Linked DNA regions of Homo sapiens: region 2 is linked to region 1. Evidence: fine-mapped expression QTL. A gene starts in region 1. The other region holds a variant in brackets. All regions are shown on one strand. Distances are from middle to middle. Region 1 holds the start of PRSS33 (serine protease 33). Region 2 holds the start of PRSS21 (serine protease 21).

Evidence for each region. PIP is the estimated chance that this variant, and not a neighbour inherited with it, causes the effect.
Region 2: its variant is fine-mapped to the expression of PRSS33 in whole blood (TOPMed, PIP above 0.99).

The regions. Positions count from the first base shown.
Region 1 is chr16:2,777,790-2,791,794 of GRCh38, reverse strand. It overlaps PRSS33 (serine protease 33), which reads left to right and starts at 4,235. Exons shown (of 7, transcript NM_152891.3): 1 at 4,235-4,262; 2 at 5,191-5,293; 3 at 5,674-5,706; 4 at 5,834-5,996; 5 at 6,149-6,420; 6 at 6,624-6,793; 7 at 6,993-7,842. The coding sequence starts at 5,248. The coding sequence ends at 7,151. RefSeq lists enhancers at 11,669-12,602, 12,603-13,537.
Region 2 is chr16:2,811,545-2,825,689 of GRCh38, reverse strand. It overlaps PRSS21 (serine protease 21), which reads right to left and starts at 8,453. Exons shown (of 6, transcript NM_006799.4): 1 at 8,358-8,453; 2 at 8,234-8,260; 3 at 7,724-7,889; 4 at 6,721-7,013; 5 at 4,581-4,735; 6 at 3,971-4,324. The coding sequence starts at 8,421. The coding sequence ends at 4,085. It also overlaps the pseudogene EIF1P4. RefSeq lists enhancers at 4,657-5,156, 5,157-5,658, 10,251-10,751, 12,894-13,623, 13,624-14,145 and silencers at 8,136-8,195, 8,306-8,585. The variant C/T (reference allele first, on the strand shown) is at 4,741.

The DNA of each region.
Region 1 (14,005 bases):
GGATTGCAGGTGTGAGCCACCGCACCCGGCCAAGATGGTATATTTGTATTGTGTGTTTTTTACCACTAAAAAAAAAAGAAAAAAAAAGAGTGGTGCTGAAGGGGAGGTGGGTCTACCTGAGGGTCTGTGCCTCAGTTTCTCAACATAGGAGCTGAGACAGGGGTTGGGTCTGGGGGCTCTTTCCCTCCTCTCCCAAAGATCCGATGTCCAATATTTAACCAGTTGCAGACCCTCCCCTGAAAAAAGCCCATTTCGCCGTGAGAATCCATTTCTTTAACCCAAGCCCTCAGGTGTCCTCAGATCTCCAACCTCCCCCTTCACCCCAAATTGCAACAGGCAGAGACCCAGCTCCCGCTGAACAGGCAGAGACCCAGCTCCCGCTGAACAGGCAGAGATCCAGCTCCCGCTGAACAGGGAGAGACACAGCTCCCGCTGAAGAGGCAGAGACCCAGCTCCCACTGAACAGGGAGTCCATCCTCCTAGCTGGCTTCCCTCCCAGTGCTTGGCCAAGTCCCCCGGGATGGCTGCATATTCTGAGGGTCCATTGTCACTCTCATACTGGTCCAGGTCTCCAGCCGCACCCAACCATGACAGAGAGGGACACTGCCCACCTGGCCTTGTCCCCACTATGCCCTCTAAGGGCAAGCCGACCTGGTATAGCAGAAGATTCTGGAGGCTCAGGGAGGGTGGGAGTGTACTTCTTTTATTCTTGCAGGACTTTCCTAGTATTTGGCAAGTGCTGGTCACTGTGCCAAGCTCTGCATGGTCAACCCCATTAATCTTTACCACAACCTACCAGGTGGATTTTGCAGATGAGGAAAGCAGGGTAGGTGAGGCTTCAACAGCTCTCCCAAGGACTCAGAGCTGGAGACCGGGGCGCCAAAGCCCAGTTGCAGAGAGCGGGTCTTGAGGGTGGTCCTAAAACGGGGACAGCAGAGGTCAGGCCTGAAGACCACCCTCTGTCTACGTTGCATCCAGATGCTGGGTCTGTGTCCCCACCAGCCCCCTCCTCTGTGTCCCTCAGCCTCATCCCCAGTCTGCTGCCCTGCTCAGCCTTGGCCACTTATTCCCAAATCCTTAGTGCCAGCTCTGTGCTGGGCACTGTCCTGCCCACTGGAGAATGTTATGCACTGAAATGTTTGTGTCCCCTCCAAAATTCATATGTCAAAGCCTTACTCACTGTTGTGACTGTATTTGCCCTTATGGAAGTAATTAAGGTTAAATGAGATCACAAGAGTAGGACCCTGCTGGGCACAGTGGCTCACGCCTATAATCCCGGCACTTTGGGAGGCCAAGGCGGGTGGATCGCCTGAGGTCAGGAGTTCAAGACCAGCCTGACCAACATGGAGAAACCTTGTCTCTACTAAAAGTACAAAATTAGCTGGGCGTGGTGGCGCATGCCTGTAATCCCAGCTACTCGGGAGGCTGAGGCAGAAGAATCACTTGAACCCGGGAGGCGGAGGTTGCGGTGAGCCGAGATTGTGCCACTGCACTCCAGCCTGGGCAACAAGACCAAAACCCTGTCTTAAAAAAAAAAAAAAAAAAAGAGTAGGACCCTAATCCAATAGAATTCGTGTCCTTATGAGACGGGATTTGTTCCCTTGACTGTGACCCCCTTCGTGGGCAGGAACTGGAGTGGCTCGTTTCACTCAGCTGTTGTTCGTGGATGGCTAAATATTAACAGTTCAGTGAAGGGTCAGGGTGACAGCATCCTGCACCTGCCCTTTTTGACACCCGAGTTCTTGTTCAGTGTCCAGGAAGAACCAGGTCACATGAGCTATTTGGAAGGTAGTGCATGCGGAGGATTTCAATGGGTGATAAAAGTGGCTGTCAGCAGGATGGGGAATTGATGCGGAAGGAAGGTGATCTTTCCCTGAAGTCGCACCATCTGAAGTTAGCCGCATCTATCCACAGCTAAAGCTCAGCCGCATGTATCCCCAAGGCTCAGCAGCTTGTATCCCTGCTGGTCAGCTGCTTGTGTTGCTCTTTTCTTCCTTTTCTTCTGCCATCTGGTCTGGTTTTTACCGGTACAGGTTAGGGGGCGGGGTGGGCCAAGAAGGCAATCATTTGGGCAGAAAAACAGGGTCAGATGTTTTCACTTAGGGCTGGGGCTCCAGGCTTGAAGGTGGGAGCCCAGCCGTTCTGTGTCACTCATAAGAAGTGACAAGAGTGCAACCTGTCTCTCTCCCTCCCCTCATGCACACAGAGGCCACGGAAGCACACAGCAAGATGCAGGCCACCCAACAAGCCAAGAAAAGTGGCCTTAGAATGAAAACTATGTTACTGGCACCTTGATCTTGGAATTCCCAGGCTCTAGAATCATGAGCAATACATTTATGTTGTTTAAGCCCCCACGGCCGGGCGCAGTGGTTCACGCCTGTAATCCCAGCACTTTGGGAGGCCGAGGCGGGCGGACCATGAGGTCAAGAGATCAAGACCATCCTGGCCAACAAGGTGAAACCGCGTCTCCACTAAAAATACAAAAAAAAAAAAAAAATTAGCCGGGTGTGATGGCGCGCACCTGTAAATCCCTGCTACTCAGGAGGCTGAGGCAGGAGAATAGCTTGAACCCGGGAGGTGGAGGTTGCAGTGAGCCGAGATCACGCCACCGCACTCCAGCCTGGAGACAGAGCAAGACTCTGTCTCAGAAAAAAAAAAAGAAAGCCCCTTCGGCTGTGGTTTTTGTTTATGGCAGCCCAAGCGGACTCCTACAGGGACACAGACCCAGACCCTGATGCTGGAGGGGAGACAAGAGGATGTAAATCAAACCTCCTCAAGTCCCTGTCAAAGGACAACTATGGGCTGGCCTCGGTGGCACATGCCTATAACCCCAGCACTTTGGGAGACTACAGCAAGAGGATCTCTTGAGCCCAGGAGTTCGAGAACAAGTTGGGCATCATTGCAAGACCCCATCTCTGGAAAAAAAAATTGCTAGGTGCTGTGGCATGCACCTGTGGTCCCAACTACTTGGGAAGCTGAGGTGGCAGGATCACTTGAGCCCAGAGGTCAAGGACGCAGGGAGTTGTGATTGTACCACTGCACTCCAGCCTGGGTGACAGAGCAAGACCCTGTCTCTCTCTCCCTTTTTATTTTTTTTTGAGACAGAATCTCACTGCGTCGCCCAGGCTGGAGTGCAGTGGCATAATCTCGGCTCACTGCAACTTCCACCTCCCGGGTTCAAGCAATTCCTGTGCCTCAGCCTCCCGAGTAGCTGAGATTGCAGGCGCCCACCATCAGGCCTGGCTAATTTTTGTATTTTTAGTAGAGACGAGGTTTCACCATGTTGGCCAGGCTCGTCTCAAACCCCTGACCTCAAATGAGCCACCCATCTCGGCTTCCCAAAATGCAGGGATTACAGGCATGAGCCACCATGCTTGGCCAAGACCCTGTCTCTTTAAAAAAAAAAAGAAAGAAAAACAAAAAAAAAAAAAAGGAAAAAAGTACAACTATGGCAGGGCTGCAAAGGAGGCAGGAGGAGGTGGCAGAGCAGAAGGCTGAGGGATAAGAGGAGTTCACTATGCAGAGAGGGACTTGAGAGACTTCTAGGCAGCGAACACTGTGTATGAGCCCAAGAGGGAACTACAGGGCCCTGGACCATCCGGGCCCCGGTCCTCCACGGGCCTCGAGAGAAGGGGAGTTCCTGTCCCCTGACCCCAGCATCTTGCTCTGTCTCGGCCACCCCAAACCAAAGACTGCACTGGTCCCCAAGGTCAAGTCTCCCCCTGCCTCTGGTCAAGTAAGGAGTGCCACCAACTTTGAACCAGTCCCTTTCCACCTCCAGCTGCTCCAGACCCCGGATCTGGAAGGGGGCTGGCCATGCTGGGGTCTCTGGGTGGAGCTGTCTGGCCAGGACTTCCGTCTGAGATGGGATTTCTGGACAGAACAATGGAGCGCAGAAGCTCCAGCAACGTGTGCTCTGCAGGGAGCCCAGGTCAGGTTTGGAGAGGAGTTGCCCCGGATCCTGCAGAGCTTCCCCACCTGACTGCCACCCCTCCCAGCACCTACCCGCACCACTGCTCTCCGCCAGCCCCCACTTCTAGTACCTTGGCGCAAGGCAGGCTTCCTTTGAGAAACCCATTGACCCTTTCCTGCCACCTCTGAAGCTCTGCTCAAAGCATCTTTGTTTGAGGCTGGTCCGGTAAAGCCACAGCCCCGCCCCGGCCCTGTTCATTACTCCTTGGCTGAGCCTCGCGCTCTCCTGGCACTTTAAGCCCCCAGGCCCTCCCTCAACCCCAGTCAGCAGAAGGCGCCAGGCTGTGAGGGTGAGAGCAAGCCAGGGGCTGTGGGGGCTGCAGGGGCAGCCAGTGGGTGAGGATGAGGGTGAGGACGAGGAGGGGTGAAGGATGGGGGAGGGGGTGAGGATGAGGGAAGTGGTGAAGATGAGGGAGGGGAGTGAGGAGGAAGGGGGTGAGGATAGAGGAGGGGGTGAGGATGAGGGAGGGGGTGACGATGGGGGGGTGAAGGATGGAGGAGGGGTGATGAGAGAGGAGTGAGGATGAGGGAGGGGGTGAAGGATGAGGGAGGGGGTGAGGATGAGACAGGGGTGAGGATGAGGGAGGGGGTGAGGATGAGGGAGGGGAGTGAGGAGGAGGGGGCTGAGGATGGAGGAGGGGGTGAGGATAGAGGAGGGGTGAGGATGAGGGAGGGGTGAGGATGAGAGAGGGGTGAGGATGAGAGGTGAGGATGAGGGAGGGGGTGAGGATGAGGGAGGGGAGTGAGGAGGAGCAGGGGTGACGATGGAGGACGGGGTGAGGATAGAGGAGGAGGTGAGGATGAGGGAGGGGGTGAGGATGAGAGAGGGATGAGGATGAGGGAAGGGGTGAGGATAAGGGAGGGGAGTGAGGAGGAGGGGGGTGAGGATGGAGGAGGGAGTGAGGATGAGGGAGGGGGTGAGGATGAGGGAGGGGGTGAGGATGGGGGAGGGGGATGAGGGAGGGAGTGAGGATGACCGAGGGGGGTTAGGCTCCAGGGCTTCTGTCGAGACCAAGGATGCCCAAATATCTGGGTGGTGGGTGCTGCATACCTGGGCCCTGGGCAGAACGAAGGGTATACAGCCTGGGCCACCAGGATAAGTCCAGAACCCACCAGGAGCTGAGGACAGACAGAAGGACCACGGAGGGGGTGACGGGCTGGTGTGAGGATTGGTGCCCCTGGGCCAGGACTCTCCTCTCTTCTCCCTGCTGGCTCCAGACCAGAGTCCAAGCCCTAGGCAGTGCCACCCTTACCCAGCCCAGCCTTGAAGACAGAATGAGAGGGGTTTCCTGTCTCCAGGTCCTGCTCCTTCTGGTGCTGGGTGAGTGGGGACAGGGACTGGGGGTGAGGGCCGCAGACACCTTGGCTCCCAGTTCTCCCATCTCACTGCTCCCTGGGCCGGGCTCCCTGGAGCACTCTTGGGCTTTCTAATCTTGATTCCAAGGGCTCAATCCTCTCTGCCACTGACCTTGACCTCACCACACCTCGATGTGCTTGTCGGTGTCATGCTCATACGCCCTTGCCCCCTGCACCTTCACAGTGCTCTGGGGAGGGTTAAATAAGATAACAGACGGCACGAAAGCCTGGCGCAATGTCAGGGCAACATTGTTTCACCCTCCTTCCTCATCTCTGGCCTCCCCTCCAACTCCGTTATTTGACACCAAATCTATAATCTGGTCCCTTCCCTGCTTCCTCCTCCAGGAGCTGCTGGGACTCAGGGAAGGAAGTCTGCAGGTGAGGAAGCCTCGGAGTCCACCCGAGTCAGCCCCTCCTGGACCTCGGCCCCGTGTCTCCCCACCAACACCTGCCTCCCAGGCCCCAGGTCCTCAGCCAACCCTCACCGCCCCTGGTCCTTTTCTAGCCTGCGGGCAGCCCCGCATGTCCAGTCGGATCGTTGGGGGCCGGGATGGCCGGGACGGAGAGTGGCCGTGGCAGGCGAGCATCCAGCATCGTGGGGCACACGTGTGCGGGGGGTCGCTCATCGCCCCCCAGTGGGTGCTGACAGCGGCGCACTGCTTCCCCAGGTCAGCGCTCACCGAGGGCCCAGGCGGGGTGTGCAAGGAAGGCAAGGCCCGCAGAGGACCGGGCGTGGCCTGGCAGAGGCGTTGGGGTCGAGGCGGGCTGGAGGGGGTCGAGGACCCGGTGCTGGAAGTAGTCCCCCGCTCCTGTCCTGCAGGAGGGCACTGCCAGCTGAGTACCGCGTGCGCCTGGGGGCGCTGCGTCTGGGCTCCACCTCGCCCCGCACGCTCTCGGTGCCCGTGCGACGGGTGCTGCTGCCCCCGGACTACTCCGAGGACGGGGCCCGCGGCGACCTGGCACTGCTGCAGCTGCGTCGCCCGGTGCCCCTGAGCGCTCGCGTCCAACCCGTCTGCCTGCCCGTGCCCGGCGCCCGCCCGCCGCCCGGCACACCATGCCGGGTCACCGGCTGGGGCAGCCTCCGCCCAGGAGGTAAGGCAGGAGGGCGGGGCTCCGAGGCATCCGGGAGCCCCCACGTCCTCCTCCATCTGACTGGAAATCCCAGCCCCTCACTGCCCCAATCCAGGACCCAGCGCGGCTTCTAGGGAACAAAACCTCCTCTCACTCAGAGCTCAGCTTCTCCCACTGGCCCCCGCTCCACGCCTTCCTCTCAGAGGTCCCTCCTCTTCCCCCAGTGCCCCTCCCAGAGTGGCGACCGCTACAAGGAGTAAGGGTGCCGCTGCTGGACTCGCGCACCTGCGACGGCCTCTACCACGTGGGCGCGGACGTGCCCCAGGCTGAGCGCATTGTGCTGCCTGGGAGTCTGTGTGCCGGCTACCCCCAGGGCCACAAGGACGCCTGCCAGGTGTGCACCCAGCCTCCCCAGCCTCCGGAGTCCCCTCCCTGTGCCCAGCACCCTCCCTCCCTGAACTCCAGGACCCAGGACATCCCAACTCAGGCTCAGGATCCTGGCCTCCAACCTAGAGGCACCACGCCAGGGGTCTGGAACCCTGAGAACTGAAGTCCTGGGAGGGCTGGGACTTAGGCTCCTCTTTCTCCTGCAGGGTGATTCTGGGGGACCTCTGACCTGCCTGCAGTCTGGGAGCTGGGTCCTGGTGGGCGTGGTGAGCTGGGGCAAGGGTTGTGCCCTGCCCAACCGTCCAGGGGTCTACACCAGTGTGGCCACATATAGCCCCTGGATTCAGGCTCGCGTCAGCTTCTAATGCTAGCCGGTGAGGCTGACCTGGAGCCAGCTGCTGGGGTCCCTCAGCCTCCTGGTTCATCCAGGCACCTGCCTATACCCCACATCCCTTCTGCCTCGAGGCCAAGATGCCTAAAAAAGCTAAAGGCCACCCCACCCCCCACCCACCACCTCCTGCCTCCTCTCCTCTTTGGGGATCACCAGCTCTGACTCCACCAACCCTCATCCAGGAATCTGCCATGAGTCCCAGGGAGTCACACTCCCCACTCCCTTCCTGGCTTGTATTTACTTTTCTTGGCCCTGGCCAGGGCTGGGCGCAAGGCACGCAGTGATGGGCAAACCAATTGCTGCCCATCTGGCCTGTGTGCCCATCTTTTTCTGGAGAAAGTCAGATTCACAGCATGACAGAGATTTGACACCAGGGAGATCCTCCATAGCTGGCTTTGAGGACACGGGGACCACAGCCATGAGCGGCCTCTAAGAGCTGAGAGACAGCCGGCAGGGAATCGGAACCCTCAGACCCACAGCCGCAAGGCACTGGATTCTGGCAGCACCCTGAAGGAGCTGGGAAGTAAGTTCTTCCCCAGCCTCCAGATAAGAGCCCCGCCGGCCAATCCCTTCATTTCAACCTAAAGAGACCCTAAGCAGAGAACCTAGCTGAGCCACTCCTGACCTACAAAGTTGTGACTTAATAAATGTGTGCTTTAAGCTGCTCCATTTGTGCTGACTTGTTATACAGCAATAAAAACTAATATAGATTTTGCCCCACTGTGATGAAGGTGTCCCAGTGGGAAAGGTGGGCTGGCCAGCGCGGCCACCTCCCCACATACTGCAAGAGGCTGGGCACTTGGTATCAGGCCCTCGGCCCAGGAGGGGTCAGGAGTCCCGGGGCAGGCCCAGATTCTGTTCTCATTGTGTCTGGCCACCATTCACTCCCAGGGTGAGCCTGGGGCCCAGGCCACCCTACTGACACCTGCACCCAGACGCCAACAGCTAGCCCACGTGCAGGTCCTTGCCCACCCTTGGGGTCCCCTTCCAGCCTGGTGCCTGGCATCCTGTCCCCTCTCTGCCATGTCCTTGTCTCCAGAGCCAGGACCACCCGTTCCAATAGATAGAGGTCAGTTTCCACAGCTGCAGAAGGAAAAGAAACAAAACCTGGAAAATTCAAAACCTACTCTGGAGCTGACAGGGGCTATCAGCAGAAGGGAAGGGAAGATAAGGGAAGGTAAACTTCAAAGGCGCAGCCCCTTTAGGTCCAGGCACAGGCCTGAGCATCGCCTCCCTCCCCTTTCCTCCTGGGGAGCCAGGGAAGTGGGCTGTACTAGATGGTCACGGCTGGGCCAGGCCAGGTGGGGCAGGGAGGGTGCTCAAGGCTTCTCTGTCCCCCAGGTGGAGAACAGACCATGCTGCAGTACAGCTTGGCCACCACTGGTGTGGTCATCAGGCACCAGGTGCCCAGGACGACAGGGCATGGCTATGGCAGGCGAGCCTGCAAAAGGCTGCAGGCCCAGCTAAGGAGGCAGAAGGGAGTGGAGCCGGGCAGGGAAGGGAGGATCATTAATGAGAAGAAATCACGGCCCCTCGTCAAGCCCTCACCAGACACTGTGCAGAGGGAGGGCTTTATTCCATCAGCTCATTGAATTCCCACAGGAGGCTCCGTGAGGTGGCTTGTCCCCATTTGTCAGATGAGAAAAACAAGTCCCAAAAGTCACACCGCCGGCAAGGTTGGTAGACTGGGACTCCAGCCCAGGTGGTCTGATTCTGGGAAAAGCAGAGGTCCTCCACTCTCTCCACTCCCTCCCACCCCCAAAAGGGCAGCCTCCCCGCACCCGTCCTCTTGGCCCGTTCCCGGCATGATGGCCTGTGGGGCCAGACGAGTGGCAGCTCTTGTCAGCCCCGTGCAACTGACCTCCACAGGATGGGGCCTACTTCCCTCTCCGTAATCTGCACTGATAACACCTGCACTCCCGTGGCTGTTGGGGGTCCAGATGTCGGCCAAGGTGGTCGTTATGCCCGCTGAGTATGTGCACTGTGCCAGGCATGTACATGCTCTCAGCAGACCTCAGAGCCCTTGAAGGAGATACTCTTCTCATCTCACAGAAGGGGAAACAGGCCCAGAGAGGTTAGGTAACTTGGCCACAGGCCCACAGCTGGTAAGTAGTGGAGACAGATTTGAACTCAAATCCCACACTCCTAACAGTTATGTCACATCCCTTATGGGGACAAAAGTAGCTATAAAACACTCTTACAAATAAGGCACATTACTAACGCATGGTCGTGAATAACTACTACGTATTAACACAAAAACAAAAGAAGTAGACCAGGCACAGTGGTTGATGCTTGTAATCCCAGTGTTTTGGTAGACCAAGGCAGGATGATTGCTTGAAGCCAGAAAATCGAGACCAGCCTGGGCAACATAGTGAAACCCCCATCTCTACAAAAAATTACATTAGCCAGGCATGGTGGCCCGTGCCTGCAGTCTCAGTTACTCGGGAGGGTGAGGTGGGATCGCCTGAACTCAGGATTTCAAGGCTGCCATAAAGATCACGCCACTGCACTCCAGCCTGGGCTACAGAGCAAGATCTGTGTGTAGGGAAAATCTCTCTCAAATTGTGTTTTTCCTCTACTCTTGTTGCCAGAAAAGAGGGTCCCAATCCAGACCCCAAGACAGGGTTCCAAGAGAGGGTTCTTGGATCTCACACAGGAAGGAATTCAAGGTGAGCCACAGAGCACAGTGAGAGAAGCAAGTTGATTAGAAAGGACTCCATCACAGAGCAGGCGTGCTCAGAGAGCAGGAGGAAGAACTCAACGTCTTTGGTTAGTGTCTCTGCTTATAAGAAACTACAGGCCGGGCTCAGTGGCTCACGCCTGTAATCCCAGCACTTTGGGAAGCCGAGGAGGGTGGATCACCTGAGGTCAGGAGTTCGAGACCAGGCTGGCCAACATGGTAAAATCCCGTTTCTACTAAAAATACAAAAATTAGCCAGGTGTGGTGGCACGCACCTGTAATCCCAGCTACTCAGGAAGCTGAGACAGGAGAATCACTTGAACTCGGGAGGCGGAGGTTGCAGTGAGCCCAGATCACACCATTGTACTCCAGCCTGGGCAACAGAGTGAGACTTTGTCTCAAAAAAAAAAAAAAAAAAAAAGAGAGAGAGAGAGAAACTACAAGGAGCAGTAAATAAACCTGGAACGTGCAGATATGTGCTCACTAAAGGTCGGGGCTATTGGTGCCATCGGTGACCGTGCATCCTCTGTCTTAGCCTGCTTACTGACACTATCTTAGTAAAGTGGGCTGCATTCTCAGAACGTGTGGACATTCTATGGGCCTTCTGGGAGAAGTCCTGTATGGCCATAAACATTTTGTAATCCTAATTGGTGGCCAGCTTAAGATGTGGCTATTTTAGACTGGGTGTAGGGGCTCATGCCTGTAGTCCCAGCACTTTGGGAGGCTGAGGCAGGAGGATTGCTTGAGCTGTTTGAGACCAGCCTGGGCAACATGGTGGAACCCCATCTCTACAAAAACTACAAAAATTAGCCGGATGTGGTGGTGCATGCCTGTAGTCCCAGTTACTCCAGGGGCTGAGGTGGGAGGATTATTTGAGCCAGTATCAGGCTACTGCACTCTGGTCTGGGTGACAGAAGGAGACCCTGTCTCAAAAACAAAAAGAATGTGGCTATTTTCAGACAGCATGAACCTTATAGATGCCTTGTGAGTGCTTAGCTACACATTTTAAGATGGAGTCACTCTGGTTGTTTTATTAAACCAGAGGCCTGGTAAGCAGAGGTCCCTAACACTCTCACACCAAAACCACAATCATCAACACAGAAGACTCCTGTGACCAACAGTTGTGGGTTTTTTTCCCCCACACACTAAGCACTGGACACCAGCAGGGTGTCCTCAACTCAATTCCAACACTATCTGCCCAGCGCCAGCCTCAGGTCCCACAGGTGGGGGCTCACAGGACTGCCTCCCCATTCCCCAATCGCAAGTTTGGGCTCCGGAACGTCTGACTGACTGGCTTCAGGTTAGCGTTCCCATGACTCTCCTCTTTGGGGTCAATTAATTTGTTAGAGCGATGCACAGAACTCAGAGAAACACCTTCACTGGTTTATTATAAAGGATGTTACAAAGGATCCAGATGAAGCAATGTGCAGGTTGAGGTGCTGGGGAGGGGCCTGGAGCTCCCATTCATCCCTGTGGTGTCACCCTCTGGGGACACACACGAGTTGAACTAACCCTGTCTCCAAACCGTCCTGTAGGGTTTTGTCAGCATTCCTTTCCCAGGGAACAGGGTGGGGCCCTCTCTGGGGAGGGTCTTAAGACTCCCAATCAGAAAGGCCCGGGGAAGATTGGAGTCCTGCTTTGGGGCACGTGAAAGGAGAAGACAGATTGTTTCCCAGGTCTAACACACCCAAAAGACACAAGGGCCTTCCCCATCATAACACAACACCCTGTCTGGGGTGGGGAGTGATGGGAATAAAAGGTAGACAGACGCTGGGCGTGGTGGCTCACGCCTGTAATCTCAGCATTTTGGGAGGCTGAGGCAGGTGGATCACAAGCTCAGGGGTTCGAGACTAGCCTAGCCAACGTGGTGAAACCCCGTCTCTACTAAATATACAAAAAAACAGCCAGGCATGGTGGTGCATGCCTGTAATCCCAGATACTCGGGAGGCTGAGGCAGGAGAATCCAGGAGGCAGAGGCTGCAGTGAGCCAAGATCACGCCATTGCACTCCAGCCTGGGAGACAGGGTAAGACTCCGTCTCAAAAAAAAACAAAAGGTAGATGGGAGGGAGCAGAAGACAGGCTGCAAGGCGGATTCTCCGAGTGAAATCTGTGAGGCGGAGAGGTGAAGGCCAGTTGAAGAGAGGAGCCCAGGAGGACATTCCCGTGTGGGTAGCAGGCGCAGCCAGCCAGCTCCTCTCCACCACTGGACGCTCCCATTCCTTGTAAAGGCCCTTAAGGAGAACCTGGACCCCACAAGACCACACTTCCAAAAGTGGAGACCCCAGGCTAGGCCAGCGAGTGGCCCTGCTCCGGGAAAATCCCTCCTGACCCCATTCCCACCACAGGAGGTATCGCTGCACTGAATGATACGATGGCCTGCCATCTCCTCGTGTAGTTATCCCACAGGGAGGACAGCGTCGTGGGGTGTGTGGAGACTCCCTCTAGGGGCAAGGACTCGTGCTGGGTCCAGGTGACCTCTGACAGCAGACAGACACCACTGACTGCGCCAGCTGGGGAACTGCGCCACTGCTCACTGAGCATCAGCACGTGAAGGCAACTGTTGTTGTATTTATGAGCTGATGCGCGGTGAGGGCAGGCACACTCCCCAACCTCCCAAGGGCTCCACACTGTGTATCCCCGCTTCATGGATGGGAACACCCAGGTGGAGGCCCCGGGCTTTGCCGGTAGGAGCTGGGGTTTGAACCCAGTGATATGCTCTCTGGAGGACAGGCACCACCCTTAAGAGGATGGTGACTCCTGGTTTCTGGTGGACATCCTGAGCTGGGGCATCAGCTGTGACGGCCCCCACAAACGAGGTGTCCACCCCTGGTCTCTGCAGATGAAGCCTGGATGGAGTATGGATCCAGGCGTCTCCCTGTGGAGACGGCCCCTCCTGTACCTACACACCCCTTGACTTCTGCGTGGCCTGCTGGGCTACCTGAGAACTTCCTGGCCCCCACTGTCCACACTCTTCCTTCGCTCTCCCTCCACAGAAGCACAGGATTTAAAGTTGCCAGTTCTATGTAGGTAAAGACACTGGGATTAATTAATTGGAGACAGAGTCTCACTCTGTCGCCAGGCGATGTGCAGTGGCGCGATCTCGGCGCACTGCAACCTGCGCCTCCGGGTTCAAGCAATCCTCCTGGCTCAGCCTCTCGAGCAGCTGGGACCACAGGCGTGCGCCACCGTGCCCACCTAATTTTGTTTGTATTTTTAGTACAGACAGGGTTTCACCTTGTTGGCCAAGCTGGTCTTGAACTTCTGGGCTCAAGTGATCCACCCCCTTCAGCCTCCCAAAGTGCTGGGATTACAGGCGTGAGCCACCGCCCCCAGCCAGACACTGCGACTGAGAAAGAAATTTTAGCCTGGCCAAGAGCTCTTCCCAGCAATTACCTGTCCAATGCCTCATGACTCACGTCATGAAGAAGAGACAGGTTCTGCAGGGACTGCGATGCTGAGGACCCTGGGAGCGGGGGTAGGGGCTGCAGTGAACCGCAGTGAAGGAAGTCACACGAGGGAAGGGACTTTGGAGGACTCCCCAGGGAGGAGCCACATTCCACAAGTCAAAAGTAGCAATAACTAGAATTACAGCTTAGAAAACACAAATGCAGCGCTAAGACTTGCCGAGGTTCTACGCAGTTCAAAAACTGTTCCTCTCCCATCTACAACAGGAGGAAACTGGGCTTTGATGAGGTTAACGGCCCATGGCCACAGTCAGCAGCGGAGCCCAGGGCTGCTCCTTCGCCTCTCTAGATGCCGAGGCAAAAATCGCACCTCCACCTTCCACCCCTCTCTCAACAGCCCTCAAAGCGCAGCTCGGAGGACTGCAGGGCGGTTTGGCGTCCAGGGCCACCCTCTGGCTCATCTCTCCAACGCCGCCTCCGACACCCGCCCAGCACGACCCAGCCTGGGGTGTCTCTGCAAGGGAGAGGTCAAGTGGGGGGCCCTCACTCTCATGTAAATGTAACTTGGGGCGATGCAGGATAGTGTCCAGCATTCAGGAAACAGGGCCTTGGTGGAAAGAGCGGCCAGCCAGGAGAATCAAGTCTCTAGGCCTTTTCAGAGCCGAAATGCAGCCAAGCAGGAAGGCGGACAGGCGCCCAGGGCTCCTGGGGCAAGGAGCTGCCCCTTCCCTCCTCCTGCGAAG
Region 2 (14,145 bases), 34 kb before region 1:
TGCCCCACGGGGGCCGACCCTGTCCACCTCCGTGGCTGTGCTCCAGCTGACTTGCTCGGGCCCTGTCCTGTGAATGGAGGAAGGATGTTGGGCTCAGCCTTCGCACCTGCCCCGGTAGATTCCATGATAAGGGACCTGAGCGGCCTGGCCCGGCGCCACACTCCGACCCTGTTCCTGACTGCACCTCCCGCAGCCACTCCCAGCCTCGGTTTCTCTATCGGTAGATAAGCCTCTAGCACACCTCAGCACCTGAGGCTGTTGGGAGGGAGGAGCGAGACAATGTGTGCGGCCGCCAGCCGTCTGCTGGGGGGAAACGAGTCCGTCTTATTAAGGTGATACGGTTTGGCTGTGTCCCCGCCCAAATCTCATCTTAAATTGTAGTTCCCATCATTCCCACATGTTGTGGGAGGGACCTGGTGGGAGGTAATTGAGTCGTGGGCAGTGAGTTACCCCTATGCTGCTGTTCTCGTGATAGAGAGTGAATTCTCACGAGATCTGATGGTTTTATACAGAGATTTCCCCCCTTTTGCTTGGCACTTCTCCTTGCTGCCACCATGTGAAGAAGGATGTGTTTGCTTCCCTTTCTGCCCTAATAGTAAGTTTCCTGAGGCCTCCCCAGCCACGCTGAACTGTGAGTCAATTAAACCTCTTTCCTTTCTAAAATACCCAATCTCAGGTATGTCTTTATTAGCAGCGTGAGAATGGACTAATACATGAGGACCGGCCCGGACGAGGCCCTCGATGGTGTCAGGCACTGGAACAGCCTCAGACTGGTTTGAGTCAGTTGCTCATCTCCTTCCCAAGAGTGGTTGAGTCCTCCCTGGGAGGCTGCAGAGGGAGTAGCCCTGTGGGGGGCGTCGCTGGTCCGGGAGGCCAGTTCCTGACTGCAGCCCCCACAGCAAGCCATGTGGAGGGCCTGGAATTTTCCAGACTCGAGGATGGACGATCCAGATGGACCAAGATGGCAGAAGCTGAGGATGGGCCCTGGGGAGCTGTCCTCCAAGGACAAAGTCAACAGACATTTCCCCTACATTTACCACCCAAATTCAGACATACTGGAGAGTAAAAGGTGACAGTGACACCCACGCAATCCCTGCCTCTCCAGTCCTCAGCATTCTCCTGTGTGGGTGTCACTGCATTTGTCCATGTCCCGGACCCTCCGTCCACTCATTGGTTCATCTTCTTTCCTCAGACGTCAGGTGCAGACCTCAGTTCACTTACCCTCAGGGACTTCCACATGCGTATCGTTAACTAGACTTTTGGGGGGTTGGGCTTTTCCCAGTTTGAAGCACAATTTGCATACAACGAAATCACAAATCTCGAAGTGTATATTCACAGGTTTAAAAAATATTTATGGATTCCGGACCACCTGGCTGGGCTGGGGCATCTGGCAGGAGGTCTGGGGCTAACTGCCCACGTGAGACCAGCCTGGACAACAAAGTGAGAACTTGTCTCTACAAAAAATAACTTTAAACAACTTAGCTGGTGGTGGTAGTGTGGGCCTGTAGACCCAGCTACTCAGAAGACTGAGGTGGAAGGAGCCCAGGACTTCAAAGTTGCAGTGAGCTAGGATCACGTCACTGCACTGGCTCCAGTCTAGGTGCCAAAGCGAGACCCTATCTCTTAAAAAAACAAAAGCAAACAAACAAACAAACGAAAAGCAAACAAAAAACTAGGCCAGGTATGGTGGTTCACGCCTGTAATCCTAGCACTTTGGGAGGCCGAGGCGGGTGGATCGAGAGGTCAGGAGTTTGAGACCAGCCTGGCCAACATAGTGAAACCCCGTCTCTACTAAAAATTACAAAAGTAGCTGGGCATGATGGCACTCCCAGCTACTCAGGAGGCTGAGGCAGGATAATTGCTTGAACCAGGGAGGCGGAGGTTGCAGTGAGCTGAGATCGTGCCATTGCACTCCAGCCTGGGTGACAGAGTGAGACTCTGTCTCAAAAAAAAAAAAAAAAAAAAAAAAGGATGACAGGCAAACTGGCTGAAAGCTATTGTAGCCATTAAGTAGCATTTCATGACTGGGTTGAAATAAAGCAGAAAACAGGGCCAACTCTATAAAAGGGACCACTAGTACAATTTGAACAAGTTGTGTTAGCGATATCGCCAAAGTTACCCACTAGGTGGAGTGAAGCATGTTTTTAGGTCCAGTTCTGTTAAGTTACCCAAAGCAGTTACTGGCTGTAAAATTTTAATTACACATTATCCTGTCAAGGGAGAAAGGTGCGCATTAAGAGAGGTAAGTGGACCACCATGATACGGAATCTCGTTTTGATGGTCTTGGGAAAAGCTGCAGTATGAAGCCGGCAATTTTGCAGTTAAAATGTCTCTGGTTATGGCCTTGGATGGTTGGTGAACTCTGTGCGGTCCACACATCAGGCACAATACTTGTCCCTTGATATTTATGTTAAGTTGTTTTGTTTTAGCTCGCAGGGCATTTATGAAAGAGCAGCTTCCAGTTTTAATAATTCCGTAGGAGAAAACTGGATTGGAGGAACTTAGAATTTAGGGTCCAATATAGTCTACAGGTAGATGATAAAACTGATCTATAAACAATTTAAATATGACATTCCAAAGCCTTCGTAATGTTACAGGATCTCTGGGGTGTTGTTTTTCTGGCTGGAAATCTGTGGCTGTTGGCGCCTTGGCCCGAGTTTTGCCCGTTTCCACTGAGGAAAAGGAGTCATCTCGTATGTCCACTGTCCAGAATCTCCACTCTTCCACCCCTTTGCTGATTTAAGTAAGAGTGATGACCTGCTCCCTGCAGGCACTGAGGAATACATCCATGCAAGGATTTAACAGAGAAATGACAGGAAAACCCTTAGCACTGTCTAAGCGATCACTAAGGATTACAATAAAAAGCAACTAGTGAAGGCATTTAAGAGGAAATTTCCCTGCAATGGGACGGTAATTGAGCATCCAGAATATGGAGAAGTCATTCAGCTACAGGGTGACCAGCGCAAGAACATATGCCAGTTCCTTGTAGAGGTGGGACTGGCTAAGGACGATCTGCTGATGGTTCAAGGGTTTTAACTACTTGTGGCTCACTGAAACTTAAGTGAGGATTTCCCTGTAATGAGTAGAATTTCCCTTCTTTCCCTTGTTACAAGTTTTAAAACCTCACAGTTTGTCTAATTTAACCATTTGAGGTCTGCTTTTAACTTGAACTAGTGTAATTCCTTTATGCAATAAACTGCAAAAATAAAAATAAAAAAATAAAAACATCGCTAAGGGAGGACCATGATTTTCGAACTTGGAGCCAGCTGGAGTCCCACAAGGGGAACCATTATTGCCTACTTTCTGGGTGCTCAGAGCCTCACCTCGGGGCTGCCCCAGCTCTGAGGCATCCCGTGCCCCAGAACTACTCTCAACATGGTGGGGGGAGTGGTCAAGAGAGAAACGCCCACCGTGGTGTCCTTGTCCTCAGTGGGCCAACGCTGAGGCCCCCACAGGATTGCACCCCAGTTGCCTAGAATGGTACCCTCTATGTTTGTGTAAGCTCATTGGTGTTCCTTCCTTCCCTGCCTCGGTTTCCCCATTTCCTGCAATCCCCTCCCAGATAAACTACCTGCACCTATGTCCTGGTCCTAGGTCAGCCTTGGGGGAACCATAGTAAGATCAGGATGTCTGGCGTTTCTGTGCCGGATCCTTGTGGGGTGAGGGATGTCAGGATTGTTTCCTCCAATGCACACACCCCCAATCCAGGCTTCCCAGCTCCTGGCACCCTGGAACTACTCCTGTTCCATTGCTGAGCATGATGTGCGTCTATAATTTCAGCTACTCAGGAGGGTGAGGCGGGAGGATCGAGACCACCCTAGGCGTTCAAGACCAGCCTGGGCAACACACAATTCTCTTTCTGATCGAAATAACCAGATGGTTCTATGGTGCAGAACAGATGTGGGTGTGAGCCAGGGGCACAGACAGGCTGTCTGCACAAGAGAGAATGAGCTGTCCATGAAGCCACTGCTTTTGAAGAATGCCCTGCAAGGCATCAACTGGAATGTGTTTATTACCAAACAAGACAGAAGAGAACCAGGGCCTGACTTGGCAGTGGCCCCAGGCTGCATGGGCTCAGGTAGGCTCAGACCGGCCCCAGGAGTGGGAGAGCCCAGAGAAGAGGGAAAAAGAGTAGCGGCCAGGAGGGGTCTGGCTGGGACATGCCACTCTGGGCCATCAGCTTCTGGATCCACTCAAAGTGGTGGCTGATATTGGTGTAGACACCGGGCCGATTGGGCCGACCACAGCCCACTCCCCAGCTCACGACTCCAATCTGATACCACAGTCCATTCTTGTTACAGGCCAAGGGTCCACCTGAGTCACCCTGGGGAGCAGCGGGGCTGAGGTCAGCCTGGGGCAGAGTGAGTGGGGCAGGGGAGGGGCTGAGAGTGGGAAGGGCTATGGGGCTGGGTAGACTGGGTGCACATCCTCCTCCTCCCCCTGGCAGCAGCCAAGCCTCCGTTTCTGCATCTGCAGAGTGGGGCAACAGTCTCCACCTCCCGGGGTTGGCATGAGGGTCAAATAAGGCACAGGGACACAGGATGCTTTCCTGGGCTGGGAGTGGTGGCAAGGACACTCACGAAGCAGGCATCCTTCCCGCCTTGGGCATTGCCAGCACAAACCATGTCTCCAAAGATGTCCTTGCGGAAACTGTACTTGAGGAAGAGGTGGTTGCACATAGAGTTGTTTATGATGGCGACCTGAACTTCCTGGAGGGTGTGGGGAGATGGCAGTGCTGTG[C/T]GGACGATAGTGGGAAGGAGAGAGACAGCAACCTGAGGCCCCTCTATGGAGGGATGGCATAGGCTGCGGGGGTGGGGGCCCTGGGGCACCCACTGTGCCTGGCAGGTTCATCTCCATTACCCCCAGCTCCAACCCAGACCCCAGCACAACAGAGGCCCTCAGCAGCATCACAGAAGGCCCCGGGGAGGGACAGGCTGTCAGAGCTCCCCCAGCCGCACTTTCCCTATCTGTAGAATGGCAACAATGGCCCTGCCTGCAGCCATGGAGAGATTCCTCAGCCAAAAGGAGCCGAGGGAGGGGCGAAGGCAGCTGAGACGGTGTTCAGATGAGCATCCAAAGCCAGACCTGGGGGAGGGGCAGCCTGGCTGCAGCCCTGGCCTCAGTAGCAGCTGGGCGCTTTCCAGGCCTGGACACAAGCTTGTTGCAGCACTCTTAGGGACCCCCAGCACCCCTGGGAGGCGGCAGTCATCAGGACCTACTCCCAGATAAGGAGAGTCAGGGGGATATTGCCCCGCTGACCCCCAGCAAGGCACTGGGGAAGTTTCAGAGCCTGACAGGAGCCCACACCTGTCCAATTCCTGCCTCAGAGTGCCAGCCAGCACCTTGTCCTGCAGAGGATGACAAAAGACAATGAGACCCAACCTGCAGGCAGCGCTTCCCGTCAGCGGGGCCTCTCCTAAGCCCTCGGGACTAACAACCTGGGAACTAGCCTCTGATGTGGCACCATCATTCCCCTATTTCACAGGGGAGGAAACTGAGGCACTGTAAGATGAACACCTTTGCCCAAGGCCTCCCAGCCCGCGCAGGGCACAGCAAAGGTGCACACCAGGCAGGGGGCTCCAGAAGTGCCTGTCCCCTGCCTCCCCGGCACTGTGAATTGAGGCACAGCCTGGGGTTGGTGTGACCTGTCTACCCTGGGCTGGGGAGAGAGGGTGGCAGAGGCAGCCTGGCCGTGCCCCTGGCTCATATCCACTCGTGTTTGCAGCAAGGGTCCTTCTCAGGGAAGGCAAAGGATCCCTCCTCCAGAGGGAGGCGGCTCCAGTGCTGAGTTCCCCACTCCCAACTGCCGGGGTGTGACTTGGGGACATCCCTTACCCTCTCTAAGGCAAGGGGCCCTGACTTCTCCATTTACTAGTTCTTGGCAATTTCCATAACCCTCTCAGTTTTCTCATCTGTAAGATGGGTATAAGAACGTTACCAACTTCATTCCTAGGTGAGCTCCAGCAGGAGGAGAGGCCGCGCCTGGCTCACTGCTGGGCCCCCATGTCTAGAACAGTGCCAGGCACACAGCGTGTGCTCAAGGAACCACGTTTGTTATTGTTACTACTGTTGTGGGATGATGCAGGGACGGGCCAGACAGGGGAGCAGAGGGAAGGGATTCCTGATACAGGGAACACGCCCAGTCTGGGGCTGCCGGGGCTCCTCCGGATGCTGGGCCCACTTCTTTCAGGGCATGTGTGTTGGGGGACACGCAGGTGCCAGGGCAGGCCCACCAGAGGAACCCCCAGAGGGGTTTCCGTGGGAGCTGCGGTTGAGCATGGCTTGGAAGTTTCTGGGGAGAGGAATGGGCTCAGTGCTGCAGGAGAATCGGCCAGAGCTAGGGTGGGTGTGGGAGGCATGGAGAGGCAGCCCAGGAGCCTGATGCCTGGGGCATTGGTGAGCACTGGGGGAGGTGGAAAGATGCAGGAATAAATCCAAGTATGAGGTTTATGTCGCCAAGCCCTCCAGAACCCCTCCACCACCGCACCACCCACAGGCCTGCGCCAAACTGGCCTCCCTCTCACACTCTCCTTCTGGCCCCCACAGCCCCTGGAAGGGAGAGAACTGGGTGTTTGGTCCCTGCCCTGGCAGGTGAGGAGAGACTGCAAGCAAGAGGGGCATAGCCTGCACCCCCAGACCAAGCAGGGGGCTATTGTGCCTATGCAGGGGAACAGGTGAACAAAGACAGTTCCTCCCTGACCCGCCTGTCCCCAGCCTCACCCTCATCCTCTTTGATGTACCCCCAGCCAGTCACCCAGCAGTCTGTCCGGTTCTCAAACTCAAATGTGGAGGCCTGGAGACAGATGGGCTGGATGTGTTTAGTGTAGGTGACAGGTGCAGACAGCTTCACCAAGGCAATGTCATAGGGTGAATTCCCCAGGTAGCGAGGGCTCAGATAGATATTCGATACGAAGTAACGGGTGTAGTAGGCCTGCAGGCTCCAGAAGGATGGCATGGAAGTCAGCTGGCCAAACTGGACCATCCACCCGGAGGGATCACTAAGGTCACTATAGCTGGCAGAAGAGAAGAGAGCAGTCAGGGGCCCTGGATGGAGGGCTGGCTACCTGAGCACAACTGGGGTCCAGTGCAGGAGGGGAAACTGTGGTGTTGCTGCTACTTGCTAACACCCAGGGTCCCCTGCAGAAATGAAGGAGCCCAGACAGACCACAACCAAAGTCCTAGGACCTGCTCCTGCAGCAGAAGGGTGGGGTCTTGTCACCTCCCAGAGCTGTCCCAAGGAGCCTTGCATTGAGCCAAGGCCTCCAGGGGCACCCCCATGCAGCCCAAGGAGGAATGGGGAGATGCACCACGCCAATGTGGGATTGGCAGGATGGAGTCCACACAGCGGCCCGGGGGTGCTGGCCTTGGCTCAGTGCCCCACACTGTACCGCACCGTCCACCAGGAGGGGGGATGAGGGTGGGATGGTCAGTGGTGAACTTTGGGTTGAAAGAAAAAGGGAGAGAATACCCAAAAGTGTGTGGAAATGTTCTGGAAGAACATTCTGGAATAACCTGAACAGGGTTCCCTCCAGGAGACCCAAAGGGAACTGGAGTGGGTGTAACCGGCTGCAGCACAGCCTGGGGCTCAGGAGAACACCAGGCCGCATCCACGCACAACTTTCACGCCCAAGTCTGGCATCAGACCAGAGGTAAAGTTCGGTGGCACTCCCTCCAGCCCTGTTCCTGCCCGTCCCCGCACCCCTCCGTTCGCACCCCCACTCACGTTTCAAAGCAGTGCGCCGCCGTGAGTGCCCAGCGGTGGCTGAGCAGGCTCACTCCGCATACGTGGGAATCCCACAGGCGCAGGCTCCCCTGCCACGGCCAACGCCCGAGTTCGGCGTCCTCTCCACCCACGATGCGCGACGTGATGACCCGTCGGCCGCATGGTCCTCGGATGGTCAGAGGAACTGCTGAGCCGCGGGAGGCAGCCCCCCAAGCCCGACCTCTCCCTTTCTCCCCTTCAACCCCGTCCGGGAAAGCACGTTTTTGCCCACCCAGGGTCCCCTCGCGTGTGTGCAGCAGGAAGTAGGTGACACTGGAGATCCTCCCACGTGCTCTGCAGGGCCCGCCCATCCCCCTCCAGCGTCCGTTAGTTACTTTCCACGCCAACAGAGTTCTCGATCCCGGGGGCGGGGGCGAGAGAGCAGTAAAGGCCCCCCTCTACCCCCTCACCGCCCCCCGTCCACCTCGGCCCAACGGCCCTGGCAGGAATCGCGCGTCCTGGGCGCCCTACCTGATAACGGCGCCGCCTCCTGCGACTCTGCGGGAGACAAGAAGTGACTCCCCGCGGCCTCCACCTCCCGTCCTCCCCACCGCTCCCCCGCCTCCCCATCCCGCCAGCAGCGCCCCGAGCTCACCCGGCTTCCTGAGTCCAGCCCGAGCCAGCAGCAGCGCCAGCAGCAGCGCCCCGCGCGCGCCCATGGCCTCCTCTCCCGCGGCCTGACGCCCCCTCTGCCTCCTCTCGCGCCGGGCCCGGGGCGCCCCCTGGGGGCGGGGCGGGGTGGGAGCTCTGCCCTCTACTCCCAGCTTCACCCTCCTGGGCCCAAGGGCTGTTTGGGGCCTCTCATGCCTGGCAGCGCCCTGGCTTTCAGCCCCTAGGGGCGGGTCTTCAACCACACTTCTTGATGTGGCCCAGACCCGGTGGACCCCACAGTCCCTTTCTTGTCTGCAGCCCAGGGGTCCCGGCTGCCCTCTTGGTGACCCCGTCCTCCACCTACAACCTCCTCCAGCACCAAGGGCCTGGCCCTGAGCCAGGAGTCCCCTTAAAGCCTGGGGACCCCCTGAAGGCCGGGTGGGGCCTAGAGGCATGGCTGCTCCTTCATGGGACCTTCTTGGGAAAACAGTGGTCCTCGGCCCGTTCCACCCAGAATGGGGATCTCCCCAAGTCTCTGCCCAGGCTGTCCCCACTGCGGGCTCCCGCTGGGCTCTCTTCACTTCTCTGGAACAATTTTTTTTTTTTTTGAGATGGAGTTTCGCTCTTGTCGCCCAGGCTGGAGTGCATTGGCGTGATCCCAGCTCACTGCAACCTCCACCTCCTGGGTTCAAGCGATTCTCCTGCCTCAGCCTCCCAAGTAGCTGGGGTTACAGGCGCGCGCCAGCACACCTGGCTCATTTTTGTATTTTTAGTACAGACGGGGTTTCGCCATGTTAACCAGGCTGGTCTCCAACTCCTGACCTCAGGTAATCCGCCCACCTCGGCCTCTCAAAGTGCTGGGATTACAGGCATGAGCCACCGCGCCCAGCTGCAATTCCACTTCTGAGCATACACCCAAAAGAACTGAAAGGAAGGTCTTCAAGAGATATTTGTTTTTGGTTTTTTGGGGGGATTTAGTTTTGTTTGTTTTTGAGATGGAGTCTTGCTCCATCGCTCAGGCTGGAGTGCAGTGGTGCGATCTTGGCTCACTGCAACATCTGCCTCCTGGGTTCAAGTGATTCTCCTGTCTCAGCCTCCAGAGTAGCTGGGATTAGAGGCACCTGCCACCATGCTTAGCTAATTTTTGTATTTTTAGTAGAGATGGGGTTTCGCCATGTTGGCCAGGCTGGTCTTGAACTTCTGACCTCAGGTGATCTGCCCTCTGCGGCCTCCCAAAGTGCCAGGGTGAAGGTGTGAGCCACCCCACCCAGCCTTCAAGAGATATTTGTATACCCATGTTCATAGCAGGATTATTCACAGTAGCTGACATGAAAGCAACCCAAGAATCCATTGACCACTGAACAGATCAGTGAAAATGGGAATGTACAACCAGAACCTGGGAATCCCGCCTCCCTCAACTTGAAACTTGGGAATAGCGTATTCTACTTTCAACACTTGCACTAGTGGAAGGTTAATTACATGAAAGATTAGGCAAAATGTGTGGTTAGGCGTTCTGGTTTTCCAATAAAAGTATTAAGTTTCTTTGGGGAAAGTACAGATAAAATGCTTAGCACAGAGCATGGTACCAACGGGAACTCAATGAGGGCGCAGCGGGTGTGTGGGAGCTTCGGGTTTCAGGAGCACAAGGCTGCGGTGCCTTCCCTCAGGGCCTCCTTCCCCAGCAGCAGCTGCTCAAGGACAAGTCACATGCACAGCCTGGCCTTGGCCTGCTGGGTTGGGGCAAAGGTCCCTGGGCTTCTGATCCTGCCCCTCTCCCAGCCAGCAGGACGTTCCCTCTGGTTCCTGAGTCCCAGGGATCCGCTGAGGCCCCTAGGAGGTGTCAGCTCCTGGTTTTGCCCAGGGTCTCAGTCAGGCCAGTCCTACCCGGAGATCTGAGCCAGGGACTCAGGTTCTTGCCTCCAGTGAGGCTGGGGGCTTCCCGCAGAGGCCAAGCCTGGCCCGGGGGCTGCAGGGAGGCCCTGGCTGCTGCATGGGCTGCAGATGGAGACTCTCTTGTCTGCTGTGCCTCAGGCTGCAGAGTCACAGAGGGGTCTTCCCAAGCCCCACACCTGGAGGGCAGGGAGGACAGGGACTTGTGGTCCTAACCCGACTCCTGACACATAAGGGCCAGCCGGCCCGGAGCCACCTCTGCGGGCAGGAGAAGGCCTCATTGTTCCCTTCTCCTGGCAGAATGAGGACTGGGGCGTGCCCGGGGCAGGAAATAAATGCTCAGTAAATCCCTCTCTTGGGAGCCCTGATCCCAAGGGACAAAGGGCCTGTGTTGAGTCTCCCTGGGCACGGGCTCGGGGCCAGCACTTGGGCCATGGCAGATGGAGGGTGGGAGGAGGGTGCCTCCCACCAGGTGGGCTTCTTCCCCAGGTCAGGCATGCAGGTGAGGAGCGTCCTCGTGTGTGCATGCCCCCTGCGTGCAGGAGAGGCTGGGCGGGTGTGTGTGTCTGGGTGTATGTGTGTGCATGCATCTTCAAGTGCACGTGTGTGAACGACCATGTGTGATCCCCGTTCTCGTGCCATCTGAACATCCCCTCCAGTGTGCATTTGGGTGAGTCCTGGCGCCCCTCTGGCCAGGCTGCTAACTATCCCTTCCACCAAGTCCCCTCAACCTCAGCTGGTGCTTCTGGAGTCCTGGCCCAAGTGACTCTCCTTCTGGGCGCCAAACCCTGTCAGCCTGGAGTTAGAAAGAAGGCCCCTGAACTGCCAGCAAAACATGGAAAGACAGGTCGGGTGCCATGGCTCAAGCCTGTAATCCCAGCACTTTGGGGAGCCGAGGCGGATGGATCACAAGTTCAGGAGTTCGAGACCAGCCTGGCCAACATGGTGAAATCCTGTCTCTACTAAAAGTACAAAAAATAGCTGGGCATGGTGGTGGGCACCTGTAATCTCAGCTACTCTGGAGGCTGAGGCAGGAGAATCATTTGAACCTGGGAGGCAGAGGTTGCGGTGAGCCGAGATCGCACCATTGCACTCCAGCCTGGGTGAGAGGGCGAGAGTCCGTGTTTAAAAAAAAAAAAAAAACAAAAAACAAAACAAAACAAAACATGGAAAGGTGCCCTTAGGCTGGGCTAGCGCGAGAACACAGCCCGCTTTGTGGCACCTCCAAGCTCCTGCCTCTGAGAGCTGTGCTGGCCAAGGGCTTGGCCTCTTCCACCTCCACCTCCCTGAAGGAGGCTCCTCCTGAGAGGGACTCCGCTGCCCACTCCCTGTGCCTGGCCCCTGCTATCCCTGAAAGTCAGAGGAATGCTGGACGGGTGGTGCAGAGGGGTGGGAGCTGGGTGGGTGGTGCAGAGGGATGGGAGCTGGGTGGGTGGTGCAGAAGGGTGGGAGCAGAGGTACAGTGGGGGCCTCATCTTGGCACATCAGTCAGTGGGAGCCCAGCTCTGACCAGCCCCTCCAGGGAGACGGTGCAGGCGTCACAACCAGAGCCAGGTGCCAAAACTAAAGTGAGGCTCTGCTCCCGCCCTGTCAGTCTCTGGCAACTTCTGTTTTGCTTTCTGTCCCTACGCTTTTGGCTGCTCTAAGTACTTCATATGTGTGAAATCACACGGTGTTCGTTTTTTGTGACTGGCTTATTTCACTGAGCACAGTGTCTTCATGGCTCATCCATATCGCTGTATGTGTCACAATTTCCTTCCTTTTTCTTTTTTTCTTTATTTTATTTTATTTTATTTTTTGAGACAGGGTCTCCCTCTATTGGCCAGGCTGGAGGGCAGTGGTGAGATCTTGGCTCTCTGCAGCCTCAGCATCCCAGGCTCAATGTAATCCTCTTACCTCATCCTCCCAAGTAGCTGGGACCACAGGTGCGGGCCACCACACCCAGCTACGTTTTTATTTTTACTTTTATTTTATTTTATTTTTTTTTTTTTTGAGACTAAGTCTCACTGTCGCCCGGGCTAATGTGCAGTGGGGCGATCTCGGCTCGCTGCAGCCTCTGCCTCCCGAGTTCAAGTGATTCTCCTGCCTCAGCCTCCCGAGTAGCTAGGACTATAGGCGTGTGCCACCACGTCCAGCTAATTTTTGTATTTTTAGTAGAGACGGGGTTTCACTATGTTGGCCAGGCTGGTCTCGAACTCCTGACCTTGTGATCCGCCCACCTCGGCCTCCCAAAGTGCTGGGATTACAGGCATGAGCCACCGCGCCCGGCCCATTTTTATTTTAAATTTTTTGTAGAGCAAAATGTTATCCAGGCTGGTCTTGAACTCCTGGCCTCCAGCGATCCTTCTGCCCTGGTCTCTCAAAGTGCTGGAATTACAGGTGCGGGCCACCCATCCATGGCCCCCCTAGTTCTCTTGTCCTCCTTCCCCTCACTAAGACAGCCAGAACAATGAATAAACAATATTTGTTTTTGTTTTTGTTTTTGTTTTTGAGACAGAGTTTTGCTCTTTTTGCCCAGGCTGGAGTGCAATGGCGTGATCTCAACTCACTGCAACCTCCGCCTCCCGGGTTCAAGCAATTCTCCTGCCTCAGCCTCCCAAGTAGCTGGGATTACAGGCACCTACCACCATGCCCCCTTTTTTTTTTTTTTTTTTTTTTTTGTATTTTTAGTAGAGACAGTTTCACCAGGTTGGCCAGGATGGTCTCGATCTCTTGACCTCATGATCTGCCCGCCTTGGCCTCCCAAAGTGCTGGGATTACAGGTGTGAGCCACCGCGCCTGGCCAACAATTAACTTTTAATGAAAATAACTGAGGAAGAGCACCAGAGTGCTTTAGAGGAGTAACAGAAACCTGGTGAGCAGAGAAACTCAGGATGGCCGCATGAAGAACAGAAGGAAACACTGGGCCTGCACCCCAGTCCTCAACCAGGATCAGCTGGGAATGAGGCAAGGAGGTAAGCAGGGGATCCCAGGAGCCCCACCAGCACCTTGGACACCTATAGCCCTCACCACTAGCGTCCCCTGTCCTCACAGGCACTAAGCCCAGGCAAGGGGGCTAACTGAGGCCGCACAGCTGAGCTCCCTGCAGAGGAGCCCACAGTGAGCCCATTTCCTGTGGTCACGTGGCTACCGCACTGCGCCAGCGGTGAATTGGAACTACAGCCAGAGCATATCTTGCCCTGGGATTGAGTAGCCACAGTTGCCCTTTATCCCTGAGACTAATCCACCACTGAACAACCTCAGCCTGGTGGCTTCACACCCCTAAACTGAGCCGTGAGCAGCGGTCACACCCTTGCTCCTGGGGCCAAGCAGTGGTGGAGGTGCTCCACCTAACCTTCCCCCTTCTCCGCTCAGGCCAGAGCTGAAGCCACAACCTGCCTCCCGGGAAAACAGCACCTTGGCTGCTCAGAGCTGAAGTTGGAGAAGCGTGCTGCATTCCAGGAAATGGTGCCAGGGCTACCCAGAATAGTCTCATTCCCCAGGCCTAAGCTAAAGCAGCCCACTTCCCCCAAGAGATCATTGCCCTGGCTGAGCTGAGCAGCTGTGAATCCAGGGGTTGACCTGATGTAGTAGCTCGCATCCCAGGGAAACATTGGCTCAGCAGTGGCTAAGCTGAGACACCCTGCTGTGGGCCATCTCCAGCTGAGACACCGCCCTCTGGGCCAGCTCCAGCACCTTGCCTCCCTGGATTAGCCTCCTAGAGATAGAGATAGTCTCCCTGCGCTGCTCCCTGCCTTCCCCTCGAATGTGCTGTTTCCTGCTACCTCCCTCCCCAACAGGACTGAAATGACAGCTGTGCTCTGCCACTCTGCCAGTGTATCTGGCTTCATGAAGTCGGGGATACTGCCAAGCCCTACCTTCTCGGGGTTCAGAGTCACTACTGCATGGAGCCTCAGCCCTTG